Regions from separate parts of the Homo sapiens genome. Here regions 1 and 3 are each linked to region 2. Evidence: fine-mapped expression QTL. A gene starts in region 2. Each other region holds a variant in brackets. All regions are shown on one strand. Distances are from middle to middle.

What was found. PIP is the estimated chance that this variant, and not a neighbour inherited with it, causes the effect.
Region 1: its variant is fine-mapped to the expression of SPTSSA in esophagus mucosa (GTEx, PIP above 0.99).
Region 3: its variant is fine-mapped to the expression of SPTSSA in whole blood (TOPMed, PIP above 0.99).

What each region holds. Positions count from the first base shown.
Region 1 is chr14:34,377,080-34,382,306 of GRCh38, reverse strand. No RefSeq gene overlaps it. Among named protein-coding and RNA genes, the nearest start is that of SPTSSA, 83 kb to the left of the region's middle. The variant G/A (reference allele first, on the strand shown) is at 2,037.
Region 2 is chr14:34,460,102-34,465,328 of GRCh38, reverse strand. SPTSSA (serine palmitoyltransferase small subunit A) reads left to right here and starts at 3,089. Exons shown (of 2, transcript NM_138288.4): 1 at 3,089-3,233. The coding sequence starts at 3,122. RefSeq lists silencers at 2,567-3,076, 3,197-3,366 and enhancers at 2,276-3,226, 3,767-3,876.
Region 3 is chr14:34,366,761-34,371,987 of GRCh38, reverse strand. No RefSeq gene overlaps it. Among named protein-coding and RNA genes, the nearest start is that of SPTSSA, 93 kb to the left of the region's middle. The variant C/A (reference allele first, on the strand shown) is at 2,551.

The sequences.
Region 1 (5,227 bases), 83 kb after region 2:
TAGCTCAGGCCTGTGATCCCAGGACTTTGCAAGGCTAAGCTGGGTGGATCACTTGAGGTCAGGAGTTCAAGACCAGCCTGGCCAACATGGGCAAACCTCTACTAAAAATACAAAAAACTTAGGTGGGTGTGGTGGCACATGCCTGTAATCCCAGCTACTTGGGAGGCTGAGGCATGAGAATTGCTTGAACCTAGGAAGTGGAGGTCCCAGTGAGCCGAGAGTACGCCACTGCTCTCCAGCCTGGGTGACAGAGTGAGACTCTGTCCCAAAAAAACAAAACAAGGCCGGGCGCAGTGGCTCATGCCTGTAATCCCAGCACTTAGGGAGGCTGAGGCGGGCAGATCACGAGGTCAGGAGATTGAGACCATCCTGGCTAACACAGTGAAACCCCGTCTCTACTAAAAATACAAAAAATTAGCCGGGCGTGGTGGTGGGCGCCTGTAGTCCCAGCTACTTGGGAGGCTGAGGCAGGAGAATGGCCTGAATCTGGGAGGCGGAGCTTGCAGTGAGCTGAGATTGCACCACTGCACTCCAGCCTGGGCGACAGTGCGAGACTCCGTCTCAAACAAATCAAAACAAAACAAAACCTAGACTTACTGTTTAACCCAAAAATCCCATTATTGGGTATATACCCAAAGGAATACAAATTGTTCTACCATAAAGACACATGCACACATATGTTCATTATGGCACTATTCACAATAGCAAAGACATGGAATCAACCTAAATTCCCATCAACTGTAGGCTGGATAAAGAAAATGTGGTGCATATACGCCATGGAATACTATGCAGCCATAAAAAAGGATGAGATCATGTCCTTTGCAGCAACATGGGTGGAGCTGGAGGCCATTATCCTAGGCAACCTAACACAGGAACAGAAAACCAAACACCACATATTCTCACTTATAAGTGGGAGCTTATAACAAGAAAAATGCATAGACACTAGGAGGGGAACAACAGACACTGCAGCTGACTTGAGGGTGGAGGGTAGAAGTCGGGAGAGGACTAGACAAAATACCTATCAGCGACTATGCTTATTACCTGGGTGACGAAATTATCTGTACACCAAACCCTGGTGACATGCAGTTGACCTATATAACAAACCTGCACATGTATCCCTGAACCTAAAATACAAGTTCAAAAAAATCATAATAAAATAAAATAAAATAAATGAAACCACATGTGCTTAGATTTTAAAAATCTAACAAGCCAGGCATAGTGGTGTTCACCTGTAGTCCCACCTACTTGGGAGGCTGAGGCAGGAGAATTCTTTGAGTCCAGGAGTTCAAGTCCAGCATGGGTAACATAGAGAGACCCCCGCCCCCTTACCAAATCTCTAAAGACAGACAGACAGACAGACAAACAAACAAACATCTAGCACGGGAACAAAGGCAATTGGAAAATAGGTTAAGCATATTTTTAGGAAGCTGAACAAGTTTTTAAGAGCTAAAACAAGTGAGAAGTATGCTAAGTAATGAAGTGTGGACTTACAAAGCAGCCTACTGTAAATTCTTTTGATTATTAATTTGCTAAAGGCCCTTGAGTCATGAATACAGATGAAAATCTATGGAAAATTGACACGTGTTCTCAAATTGGGGCCATACATCACCACGGCCAAGATATGGTGCAATATGATAGTCTTAAATGCTTAACGTAATGCTATGCCTATAATTACATGTATGGCGTTATCTTTAATATGAACTGATTAATGAGGGTGACATAAAGCAAGGATGAATGTTAGTTATTCAGACACTGATGTTCAGATAGCCACCTGAGAAGTCATTTTTCTCAAAGTTCTATTCCTTAAGGATTGTAGAAATGTCAATTGTTTTTGCAGTTTCCATTTCAAGAAGCAGTTATTCATAATCCCCAGAGAACTCTTCCCTAACAGACTACAATAAAACTTACAATTAATGGTGGTGACATTTTAGACCTAAATTACTGCCTTCATGCTTTAAATCATTATCCTGCTATCCCTATGCATGGAACTTTCAAAGTTTTCATTTCATTCCTGGCTTATCTCTCATCTCCACTGC[G/A]TGACTAGTTCCTTGTCCCTTACAAACGAATGCAGGAGGCTGAATTTCTAATGTTCCCCTTAAAATTCTCCTACTTGTTAACAGTACTTTTATGGTAGTTCATCTAAAATAGTTTTTCAACAAACTTCTCAAAGGCTGTCTCTGGCTGTCCATTTTCTTTCTTCATTTTTTAGCTGAATAGCTGGTATACACTAGTCCATTCTGGTATTTGTGTGTTTCCTCCCCTCTCTCTCTTTTTCTACTTTATTTCTCAAAGGTGATTGATATCTTCAATCCCTAGTTACCCCATCATGTGAGCCTCTTTGTTCTCCATGTCCTTCCCACTCTGCTCACAGGGCCCTTGGACTCTGCCTCCCTCTCTCTATCCTTCTTCAAAGGCCACTAAAGAGGTTCTTTTTACGAACTTTTTCTTGGTAAACTGAAGACAGAGTGCTGGGAAACGAAACCTTGAAAAAGACCTTGGAAACCTTGACCAGACGCTGGGCAGTCTGGTTCCCTTTGTCTCTCAGCCCCCAAGGGCTTCTCTCCTCTATCCCTGCTGTGAGCTAGTCACTGGAAAAACACACCTGACCTTGCCAGCCAAGTGAGGGTGCCAAGAATGAGAGGGAAGCATTCTTCTCATCAGCAGATGGGAGGTCTCCCTCAAAGGATTTCTCAATGCCGCCTGAATCAAAGCCTGTGTTTCCCAGAGCAAGGTATTCCCTGGAGGCCTCCTGAGCTCTGGCCACAGTGTTCTCATACAGCTAGCAAGAAGTCATAATGGAATTCGCTCCAACAATCCCACTGCCTTGTTGTTGTTCTGTTCTTGAAGCTTACTCTGTATCATAAACATAATTATAAGAAGAAGTTAAACATATAAATGTGTTCTAAAGAAATGGGCTTTTGTGGCAGGGCGCAGTGGCTAACGCCTGTAATCCCAGCACTTTGGGAGGCCGAGGTGGGTGGATCACCTGAGGTTGGGAGTTCGAGACCAGCCTGGCCAACATGGTGAAACCCCCGTCTCCACGAAAAATGCAAAAATTACCCGGGTGAAGTGACACGTGCCTGTAATCCCAGCTACTCAGAGGCTGGGGAAGGAGAATCACTTGAACCTGGGAGGCAGAGGTTGCAGAGAGCCGAGATCGCGCCACTGCACTCCAGCCTGGGCGACAGAGCGAGACTCTGTCTCAGAAACAAAACAAAACAGAAATGGGCTTTTGCTATGCAGTGGATGGGACCTCGGCTTTTTGAGAGTGATTGGTGGTATGCAAAATGTGGAGAATCCCTCCTCGAGGCCAGATTCTTTGGTATCAATAGTGCTTCATGTAGAGATCCTTTTGTTTGGATCTCTACAATCTTTGGATTGTTTGTCAGAGATTGAGAAGGCACCAGTCTCCTCCTTTTCCCATTGGTTACCACCTCCTGTGTGCATAGAATATTGTATTTTTAAAATCATAGAGTTAGAACATAGGGGTGTGGGTAAATTTTCCTTAGTCCAATACAATTAATTTGATATCCAAAATGAGCTTGTTTCCTGCTTTGCATTTCAACCCCCTAACCCACCCATCCCCACTTTACCCAACATTCTTTGAAGGCTGGGGTTTATCTCATCGTTGAGAAGGAAAAGGCCAAAGGCTTGACTTTCAAATAATTCATTTCCTGCAGTCGCTCACATTCCCAGTCTCTTTTCTTGTTCCTATTTTTAGCTGGTCATAGCTCTTTATAATTTGGAAATTAAAGTCCTTAAAAACAAAGAAATAAACAATTTCACTGGGATGACTGTCAATTTTAAAATAAGCAATTGTTGAGTGCCTACTATAAACTCAGAATGGACTAGGCACTTAAAAAAAGCCAAATTAAAAACAAGGTCCATGTCATTAAGAATCTCATAGTCAGCAGGGAAGGCAGTTGCATAAACAAATAATTTAATACAAAGAAATAAATTGCTTTCATGAGGTTATATATCTGGACCAATGAGAAAATCGGAGAAATGGAGCTTCTTAGTAGATCTGGGCAATGCAGACAAAGCTTTCCAACAGACATATCTTCTCTAGGAGGAGTGTGTGGGGAGGGGTTGTTACAGAGGTGGAGGGGATAGTATGTAGCTCAGAGAATGGCATGTGTGCAGGCCCAGTGGCTCTGGAGGACAGCACGTACTCAGAGTCACCACAGCAATCGAGTATGTCTGGAGAACTGGCTGTGAATGGGTGCAGAAGGAGACTGAGACTAGGAAGGAATGCAGGGATGAAGATCACAGAAGGCCTTGCCTACCATGGAAAAGGAGTTTGTTAGGTTTTATCTTCAAGACACTAGGAAGCCACTGAAAGATTCTGAGCAGGGTAGTGGTGTGATCAGACTTTTGTGTTGGAAACATCCTCTGTAGAGAAAGAAGGGTGGAAGATAGATTGGAGGGCAGCAAGACTGGAGGCAAGAAAGACCAGTGGGAGGATGCTTGTTTAATATTTAGTTTAAGAGAGACAATGAAGACAAGAACAGGGCAGTGGGGTAGAGATAGAGAAGAAAAGTTTATAAGATACATAGGATTTGGTGATTGATTACTTATGGAGCAAGAAAGAGAGACATTTCTGGCTTGGTCAGCTTGACATTTCTCAAGATAGAGAAGACAGAGGAATAGGATTTTTGTGGCAGGGGTTGGGAAGAGGAAGGATCCCTCTGTGGTCTCAGTCTAGGAAGTCCCCCAACCTTCCTTGGTTCTCCATGACCTGAACTTTGAGAGTCCAGATCAGTTGTCCCACACGACAGCCTATACCCTGGATCATAGTTAGATTTAAACCTGCTATTTTCAGTAGTTTACCAGTAAGTGATGTTTGTACCTCCCACTGTGTCACATCAAAGAGAATCTAATGTTAGGAGCCCATCCCTTTTATAGTGAGACTTTTGACTATCATATCAGAAATTGTCCAGATTATTGGATCTTACAAATCAGACATATATGAGTATATATATATATATTTTTTTTTTGGTGGTCCTGGTCTTTTGTAAAAAATGATACATGTTCTGAGTATTTCATCTTTAAAGTATGGCTTAATGAAAGCCAACTTTGGAGCTATTTATTCAGATTGTTTTTTCTTGGTTTTATGTTCCCATGGAAACCTGTATAGCAAATAGGTTGTTCTGAGTGAGGCCTGGCCTGGTTCAGTTAAATCCAAAGGCTTCAGTCAATCTGGTTCACTGACATGAGTAATTTTCTG
Region 2 (5,227 bases):
TCCTGTATGTCTCTCCTCATTGCTGTCAAATCTCAGGTAGCTCCTTCCCTGTATTGGCTTCCTTTGGACTCTCATTGGCCAAATGCCAGAATCTCTGGGTTTATTCTGTACCCTGCTCTTCCCATTCTATGTGCTTTCCTTGGGTGACCTCATCTGCTCTTCTGGCTTCAATGACCAGGGACATATTGAAAATTCATATGCCTCTAGTTCCATTCAGGCTTCACTTCTGAGTTCCAAACCATGTGCTCAATTGTCCCCTGGACACCTCCATTTAAGTGTCCCTCAGGTACCTCAGACATAGCTTCATCCTAACAAAATCAATATCTTTTCAGCCAAACGTCTTCCTTCGGTTTCTTTGTATTGTCATCATCCAGGATCTCAGCCTCTTTTCCTCATTTCTAGTCAGTCACCAACTTTAGTGAGATGAGGTGGTAGAGCTGGTCTCCGAGAGACACGCAGTGGATTGGGAGCTACTAACAGTGAGGACAACCACCTGGCAGACATGGTGCTAGGGAGTGGACCCAGTAAAGGAAGGGTGGCTACGGGTGATGCTTCCAATCTTGGATGAATTTTATGTAGCATCACCAGATGCTGAGGGTAGTTGGAGTTCTCGAGGAAAAAGGAATGAGCTTGCCTGTGCCTGAACAGGAACAGGGACAGAAAGAAGTCCAAAACAGTTAAGTTTGAAAGTAGGAGGGCACGTGTACCTGCATCTCTGAGGGGTAAGGAGGTTTCAAGTATTTGTGGGTTCTACCTTTGTAATGTCTTCCCAACCTGTTTTTTCCCTCGGTAGCCTCCAGGCTACTACCCACACCCAAGTCTTGTTCCGAAAGCATTTTTTTTTTTTAAACGGAGTCTTGCTCTTGTTGCCCAGGCTGGAGTGCAATGGTGTGATCTCAGCTCACTACGACCTCCGCCTCCCGGGTTCAAGCGATTCTCCTGCCTCAGCCTCCCAAATAGTTGGGATTACAGGCACCCACCATCACGCCCGGCTAATTTTTTATATTTTTAGTAGAGACGGGGTTTCACCATGTTGGCCAGGCTGGTCTGGAACTCCTGACCTCATGTGATCCACCCGCCTTGGACTCCCAAAGTGCTGGGATTATAGGTGTGAGCCACCACACCCAGCCCTGAAAGAAAATCTTATTTAAGTTGTTGGCTCCAGTAACTTTTGGACATCAAGTTAAAAATTTCTTAGCTTCTCAAACAAGGTCCTTCAGAATATGGTCCCTGTTTGCTGTCTAGGCCCATCTCTTGCTACTGCATATACATTCTTTTTGCTCCAGCCACATGGAAGTTCTTCCAGTCTTCTAAAAACATCACAACTTCATCCTTAGAATGTCTGTCTCACCCTCTCTTCCCCAAGCTCATTCATTCTTCCATTTCTGCTTGTCCTTCAACACTCAGTTCAAGCACCATTTCTCAGAAGACTTTCACAAGCCCAATCTGATTTTGTCTGGGCTATCTTGGTATCCTAAAGGATACGATCCACAAAAATATCATTTACCACACCTCACTGTAATCCATTAACTTGCCTCTCTTCCCCAGCAGACTGGGTACTTTATGAAGGCAGGTCTCAGTCTATCTGGCTTGCTATCCCAATGTCTGGCACTTGATATTACTTACTGTTTTCTTTCTTTTCTTCTCTTCTCTTCTGTTTTCTCCTCTCTTTCTCTGTCTCCTTTCTTTCCTTTCTTTTGCTCTGCCACCTAAGATGGAGTGCAGTGGCACCATCCTGGCTCACTGCAACCTCGACCTCCCGTGCTCGAGCAATCCTCCCGCCTCAACCTCCTGAGTAGCTGGGACTACAGGTGCACGCCACCACCCCTGGCTAACTTTTTGTTATGTATTTACTTATTTTTTTTGGTAGAGACGGGGTTTCACCATGTTGCTCAGGCTGGTCTCGACCTTCTGGACTCAAGTGATCCGCCAGCCTCAGCCTCCCAAAGTGCTTGGATTACAGGCATGAGCTACGGCGCTTGGCCGGCACTTGGTACTTTTAATGAATAGTTATTAACCATGAAACTTTTAAAGTTTAAGCAGTAGTATGTTTAACCTGGAAGACTTTTAACATTTAAACAGCAGGCCATTTAATTGTGGCAGTTCACATGCTACACCAGTGCATGGAGCTCCTTGTGGCCAGTGCAATGTTGCTGGCCCATCTGGCAGTGGGAAAATCTGGGCATCCAGGAGTGCATCTCTAGGGAAGTATCACCAGCCCTCACACCAATCTCAAGCTGCCTGTCTTCTGCAGAACCCACTAGATCAGCGCGCTTCTGGCCTTGACCCACTTGGTGGTTACCTACAGCCACTAAGAGGTGGGCAGATAGATGTTTTTGGTAAGTGGTCTCTGGGTTAGGGAGTGCATGGGTTATGTCCGTCTAGGGGTGTGTGTGTGTGTGTGTGTGTGTGTGTGTGTGTGTGTGTGTGTGTGCATGGGTGGGGGAAGGGAGGAAGGAGGCCGAATGTGCATCCCTTCTACAAGGACGCCTTTCCAGACCTCCTTATTAGGTGGCGTTCGCCTCCTCACCCTCTCTCAGCCCCTTATCTCCTCTTACACGGATCACGACTTGATTAATGCTTGTCTCCCAGCTAGGCCGCCAGCTGCACAAGGTAAGGAACCGAAGGCATTCCGGTTCTCCCTGGCAATCCTCCTTCTCAGAAGGATGCCTGAGGCATAACAAGTGTTCCAGAAATATTTCTTCCGCAAGCGCTCTGGGCCAGTCTGGACGGACCGAGCGCCCGCTGGGCTGCGGGGGCCCCGGGACCCCGGCCGGCACTGACGCCCCGCCCACCACCGGCCGGCCCGGGCGGGGTGGGGCGCGGCTGGGCGCTCTCGCGGGGACCGTTCTCCGGCTAGCGTGGGCGATGCCCGGGCGGGGAAACGGGAGGGGACGACGCGACGCGAGGTAGCGGCCTGGCCAATGAGCGCGGGTCGGGCGGGGCTGGGGGCCGGCGGCCGGGGCGCGCGCGGGTCTGGGCGTGCCGCGGGTGACGGCGGGGCCGGGCGGGCCAATGGGCGCTGGGTGGCGGGCGGGCGGGCCTGGCGGCCGGGGGCTTTAGGACGTGAGCGGGCGGCCGGCCGGACAGACTGACGTGTGAGCTGCATCGCGGGAGGCGCATGGCGGGGATGGCGCTGGCGCGGGCCTGGAAGCAGATGTCCTGGTTCTACTACCAGTACCTGCTGGTCACGGCGCTCTACATGCTGGAGCCCTGGGAGCGGACGGTGTTCAGTATCCTGTCCCGGCCGCGCGCGCGGGGGCCGGGCTGGGGGCGCGGGCCGCGGGGCCGCATTTCCCCAGGCCCCGGGCCTGGGGTGGAGGCTGGAGCGGCGGCCCCGCCGGTCCTGTGCGCGGAAGCCGGGGGTGCAGGGGGAGGTCTGGGGGCCGAGGGCGGCGCTCGCGGGGTTAAGTGGGGGGTGGGGGAGACGAGAACTCTTGAGATCCGGGGTCACCTGTGAGTCGCTGGACCCAAGGGGGAAGCGTCTTGATTCCTGGAGGAAATCTCCGAAGGTGATGTGTAACCCTGTGTGTCGCCTGCACTTCGGCCGCAACTGCCTTTGGTTCAGTCCCCTGTTCCTGTAGGAGGCGGGGATCATGTAACAGTGGAGCACATCGCTCCCGGCTTGGACGCCTTTGACCTTTAAGTGTTCCTGATTTAGTTGGCTTTGGGTCTACCAAGAATTCTAGTCAGTTAACTAGCTTTTAAGCCAGGTTCTGAATTTGTAGGCATGACACTCCAGTAGTTTTTGAAAGCAGTTTAAGTTATTGTATCTTTTTGGTCTTCAAGTTGGGGAGTTTTAAAAGTGTATTTATTGCTTCTGTGCACCGTCCGTAGAAGTCGGCCCGAAAAGTGGTGCAATTTGTGGTTAGTTGTCGGTAGGGTTTGAAACTGTGTTTTGGTGGATAGTTAATAAATTCTTGTTAATGACTATTGAGTGGTTACTATAAGCAAAGCATTTGTGCAAAGCACGTTGTCTGTATCTTAACTCATCTAACTTTGAGAACTTCAGTTAATAACTCAGGGTTGTGAAGATAGGCTCCCTGAAAGTCTGATGTTTCTTGTCTCTGCTTGTCCATATTGACATCCTTTGATGATATTCTTGCAGATTAAATACTGATAATGAATGAGATGTAACTTTTAAAAAACTCAGGCCAATACAAAACAGGTATTTCACAAAACATGTTTAGTTTATCCACGTTCTCTCCTTTTCAGTGTGGTTTAGTTGGAGTAGCTTACTTCAGAATAACTTTGCGAATGCATTGTTGCATTCCAGTGAGTGACTGAGGTAATTTCATTCTAAGCCTTATCAAGTGTGTTTATTTGTTTTGAGATAGCTTAAGGTTGTACTCAAAGCTGAGTCTTTTGTTTAAGCACTTTTGAGGAATTTGAGATGCTTTCAAAGCAGTTTATTTATTTATTACTGTTGGCATTTCTTTCCAAACCTGGAATTTAAGAACCAGAATGCATATTTTGGATTTAGACTCTGAATATAGTTTGCTTTGATTTCCTGCACCATTTATTTGTAGCTGCAGTTTAGTCTCACTCTTTAGGGCTCGCAAGGTCATGCCTTGTAAAATATATACTTGAATGCATATTTAATAGAAGTCTCTCAGTAGAAGCAAGTATATCTTGACTGACATAACACATCCTAAAATTAATTTAAACAATGCTGGGTTAAAATGAAACTCTTTAAATCAGAGGTTGAATGTAGAGTGCACTATTAGAATCTAGTATAGATTTGACACCTAAAATCTAATATAGATTTTACACACTAAAATGCTACAGTTATCAATGATGTTAAGATTTTTCTGTTATGTTGCAATAGTGATAGTGTCCTATAAATAACTAGGTGATGCCTTTTTTGGGGGATGGAGAAATAAATTATGAAATGAAATATAGTGCCTTAGTAGATATTTGCCTTTAATGTTTTTGAGTTACCATGGTTTAGCGACAAGTAGTTTCAATTTTTTTTTCAAATAGGTGAGAACTGCAACCAACTGACATCCAATATTATAGAACCTTATGATTTTAAACTTAAGATAAAAAAATCTTATTTCAAATTTCACGTTATTGAATTAACTCAGGTTAGAAATGCAATTGTTTGACATAAGCCAGTCTTGAATTACTATCAGCTGTTGTATTTATATTTTTCCACTTCAACTTCTAGAATCATTTAAAACTATCTGATAGTTTGGAACATCAATTTGAGATTGAATCCTCATTT
Region 3 (5,227 bases), 93 kb after region 2:
TTATAACTTGCTGTAATTCATGTAGCTTACAAGGACTTAGGTCTGTATGACCCTGGAACCCATATTCTTTTTTTTTTTGTTTTTGAGACGGAGTTTTGCTCTTGTTGCCCAGGCTGGAGTGCAATGGTGCAATCTCGGCTCACCACAACCTCCGCCTCCTGGGTTCAAGCAATTCTCCTGCCTCAGCCTCCCAAGTAGCTGGGATTACAGGCATGCGCCACCATGTCTGGTTAATTTTGTATTTTTAGTAGAGATGGGGTTTCTCCATGTTGGTCAGGCTGGTCTTGAACTCCCGACCTCAGATGATCTGCCTGCCTCGGCCTCCCACAGTGCTGGGATGACAGGTGTGAGCCACCACGCCCAGCCAGAACCCATATTCTTTGCTGTTGCCCTTTAGTGCCCTTTAGCTGATAACTTGAGTTCCTAGGGACTTGAGGCTTCCTATAGGAATGTTTTATGATATCTATTTGATTCTAGAATATTAATTTGTTCCAGGTCTAGGAAGCAATGTACAGCTGTGAAATTTATTTATTTATTTATTTATTTATTTTTTGAGACCAAGTCTTGCTCTGTCACCCAGGCCTGAGTGCAGTGGCACGATGTTGGCTTGCTGTCTCCCAGGTTCAAGCAATTCTCTTGCCTCCCAAGTTGCTGGGACTACATGTGTGCAACACCACACCTGGTTAATTTTTGTATTTTTAGTGGAGATGGGGTTTCACCACGTTGAGCAGGCTGGTCTCGAACTCCTGACCTCAGGTGATCCACCCGCCTCAGCCTCCCAAAGTGCTGGGATTACAGGCATAAGCTACTGCTCCCAGTCGTAGCTATGAAATTTAATTGAGAGAGAGAGAGAGAGAGAGAGAGAGAGAGAGAGAGAGAGAGAGAGAGAGTGTGTGTGTGTGTGTGTGTGTGTGTGAGAGAGAGAGAGAGAGAGTGAGAGAAACAGAGAGACTTAGAGGCAAAAATAAAAATTAGATAGAAAGAGACAGACAGACAGACATGAGACAGAAAGGGAGATACAGTAAGAGAACCTGAGGGAAAGACAGAGACAGACAGATGCACAGACTAACAGACATACCAGCCAATCCACCCATCAAGTCACTTGCTCTTTCTCAATTTTCTTTCACTAGTAAGGGTATAGTATAATGTTTCCTTACATATTTCTTACGAATCAACACGAATGTGAACAATGGTGTCCAGTATTATTTTGTGCTGTGGGGAATATAAAATATTAGCAAGAATTTGGCAACTCTAAAGTACAGAGAAACCTAAATAAAGGCTTTTGTTTGTGCCTAACAGTAGACTATTACAGAACAATTATTTAAATGTCTTACATACTTAACATAAGTAATCAAGCATAGGCTTTGGAGTTGGACTTATGAAATTCATATTCCAGCTTCATTTATTAGTGTAATTTTAAGTAAGTTATTGAAGTCTGGGTATCCGTTTTCTGATCTGTGAAATGGCAATAATAATGGTACCTATTTTGTGGAGTCCTTGGGAGTTTTTAAAGAGATGATGTCGGCTGGGTGCGGTGGCTCATGCCTGTAATCCCAGCACTTTGGGAGGCCAAGGCAGGTGGAATACCTGAGGTCAGGAGGTCGAGACCAGCCTGGCCAACATGGTGAAACCCCATCTGGTAGAATATAAAAATTAGCCGGGTGTGGTGGCGCATGCTTGTAATCCCAGCCACTCGGGAGGCTGAGGCAGGAGAATCACTTGAATCCGGGAGGTGGAGGCTGCAGTGAGTGTAGATTGAGCCATTGCACTCCAGCCTGGGCAACAGAGCGAGACTCCATAACAAAAAACAAATAAAAACAAAACAACGACAACAACAACAACAACAGAGATGATGTCCAACAGTGTTTGACACAATTAATTTAGCCATTTTTATTTCATCACTAGTGCTGACAAGGATAATGTAATTTAAAAATTAACTGAATAAATATATCTGCTCTTAATAAGTAGTAGCTGCATTGTCCTACTTGTAGAACTCAGATGCCTAGTTTTAGGGAGCACTGTCCTCAGTGCAAGCACTGTGGTGACCTGGAATCTCCTGCCCTGACACGTACAGTTTGCTTATCAAGCAATTACCCTGGCACCTACCATTTCTGAGCCTTAGGAAAGCCCTATTTAGAATGCCACTTAAGGAATGTGCTCCCTCCCTTGAGTTCTTATGCAAGATCTTTTTTGAATGCTTAAAGAGAGAATAATAATAATAATAATGATAAGAAGAAAAAGAAGAAGAGGAAGAAAGAAAAAGGAAGAAGGAGGAGAAGGAGAGGAGGAGGAGGAGAGCAAATCAGTAAATCACTTAAGTAAAATTTGCCCTGCAAAGAAGTCAGGGCATCTTGGTCCTATCTTGTTCTCCCCCTCACCAAATTGGTGCCACTTCCTGAACACACTGGGTGCTTTCACATACTGGTGCATTTGCTGGCATGGTTCTGCCTGGCCTGGATGCCCTTCCCTTCATTTCTCAACACTTCCCCCGTCAAAAGCCAAGGAACTCCGTTGTGTAGCTTTCTCCAACACCCACAGATGGAATTAATA[C/A]TTCCCTCTTCTGTAGACCCACACCACTCTGGAAACACCCCTATCATGCAGTTTATTATAGTCTGCCTAATTAGAAGCATGGTATTTGTCCACTGTGGTTGACCATGAGCTCCTGGCAGACTGGCAGTATTTTATCCGCTTTGTAGTCTTAACAGGTGGGGCAGAGCCTCTGATGATTCTGGGGGAAAAGAGTGAAATCACCTTTTGCCATTTGTCATGTTGTAAAGCTTCCTTTCCTTTGCTAAATACTTACCAGGAGAGCCCTACCATCATGGCTTAAGCATTTTTGTCCCACAGCAAGGGACTAGCCAGGGCAGGGAGGTAGATAGTTTTGTATTTCATATATGGCTTGTATTGTGCCATGAGAATATTTGCAGGCTTGTTACTTTGAAGTGCCTCTGTCAGAGACTAGAGGAAGCCTGATTCTCAAGCCCAAATGAGATAGGAAAGTTGTCATGGATACCATAACTGCCAGTCTTCTTGGATGTCATAGGCGAGGCAGGTCAGCTCAAGAGAGAAGTGCTTCCTGGTGGTGTTTGCCATGCCTGATTGTGGATAAATCCAATATAACCCAGCATTTTCTACACTTGTTTGAATGCACGAAATCTAGTGGGCAAAGATTGAGAAAGGCAGCCTTTAATTGCTGGGTGTGGTGTAAGGTTGATTGAGTGTGGTGGAGTTGTGAGTAGACTTGCCTGCAGAGAAGTAAAACAGATGGAAATTCCATGGCCTTGTAAGTGAGTTTTTATCTCTATTTAAAATCTTTCTCATTTCTTCAACTTACGGTTATGAAATATTTCAAACACACAGAAAAGTTGAAAGATTATTATGGTGTAATCCCATATGCCCTCCACATAAATTTCACAATTGTTAATATTTTGCAATACTTGCTTTATTTTTCTCTGTACTTTGGTTTTCTTTTTTGTGTGCCATTTGAAAGCAAATTATGTACACATGATGACACAACACTTTTCGATATTCAGCATTTCATCCCTTAAGAATACAGATATTTATCCACAGAAACAAAATGTCATTATCCCTGCTAAGAAAATTAACTATCTAAAATCAACTAAATATTTACATTTCTGGCCGGGCATGGTGACTCACGCCTGTAATCTCAGCACTTTAGGAAGATTGCTTGAGCCTAGGTGTTCAAGGCCAGTCTGGGCAATATAGTAAAATGACGTCTCTTAAAAAAAAAAAAAAAAAAGGCAAGAGTGGTGGTGCATGTCTATAGGCCTAGCTACTCAGGAGGCTGAGGTGGGAGGATCACTTGAGTCCAGGAGGTTGAAGCTGCAGTGAGCTATGATGACACCACTCACGGCACCCCAGCTTAGATGACAGAACGAGACCCTGTCTCAGAAAAACAAACAAACAAACAAACTGCATTAATTCCTCCAAAATGTCTTTGTAGCTGTTTCTCTCAAATTAATGCATACATTACATTTTAAAACTTCATTTTAACATAGAATGTTTTATCCCTCTTTTTTTCCCTCCATGACATTGACTTTTTGAAGAATCCAGGCTCGCAGCCTTATAGAATGTCCCACATTCTAGATTGTGTTTTCTCTTGATGTTAACCTGTTCCTCTTTCCCAGTAAGTTTTAACCCGGGCTGTACATTAGAATTCCTTGTTTTGATTAATTGGCCTTACAAAGAAGAAGTAATAAATTGGTCCACTCTGTTCTCACTGGGGGTTTTAAATACAAAACTAAAAACCTAGAAATTTCATACAAATGTCTGAGTGCTGCTCTAATCCAGTTAAATCAGAAGCCCTTGGGATGCAGCCCAGGTGGCCCTACTTTCAAAAATCTCCGGGTGGCTCTAATATGAGGTCAGAAGTAAGAACCACTGCTCTATCTCCTGTATATTCTTTAAACTAGAAGTTAGATTCGAGTATACGTTTTTGTTCAGAATATCTTAACTGTACATTACAATCATGTGGGAAGCTTTAAAAAATACTGATGCTTGGCAACTCCGGCCCCCGCCCCTGCCCAAGTAGATTCTGCCGTAGTTGGCATTAGGAGTTTGAAAAGCTCCTCGGGTGATTCTAATGCAATTAAGAAGCGCTACTGCCTTAGATTAGGTTGTTGAATTTGCATCATATCAGGAAGCATGTAATGCCACAGTGTTCCATTTTTTGTGATGTGAAATTCAATCACTGGATTAAGGTGGTCACCACCATACCTCTCCATTTCAAAGGTACAGTTGCTCTTCTTTGTTTATTTTATATATTTTTTGAGATGGAGTCTTGCTCTATCACCCAGGCTGGAGTGCAGTGGCGCGATCTCAGCTCACTGCAACCTCTGCCTCCCGGGTTCAAGAAATTCTTCTGCCTCAGTCTCCCAAGTAGCTGGGACTACAGGCGTGTGCCACCATGCCCAGCTAATTTTTGAATTTTTAGTAGAGACGGGGTTTCACCATGTTGGCCAGGCTGGTCTCGAACTCCTAACCTTGTGATCCGCCCACCTTGGCCTCCCAAAGTGCTGGGATTACAGGCATGAGCCACTGTGCCTGGCCCAGTTTCTCTTCTTTGTAAAAGTAAGTGGTCCCTGGGATGGTACTTTGGTACTCTAGGGATAGCCCGTATGCTAACAAGTTTTCATCCAAAGGTTTTGGCTTCCACTGGTGATTGTTACATGAATCAATGATTATATCAGGGGTTACAAAATGGTGA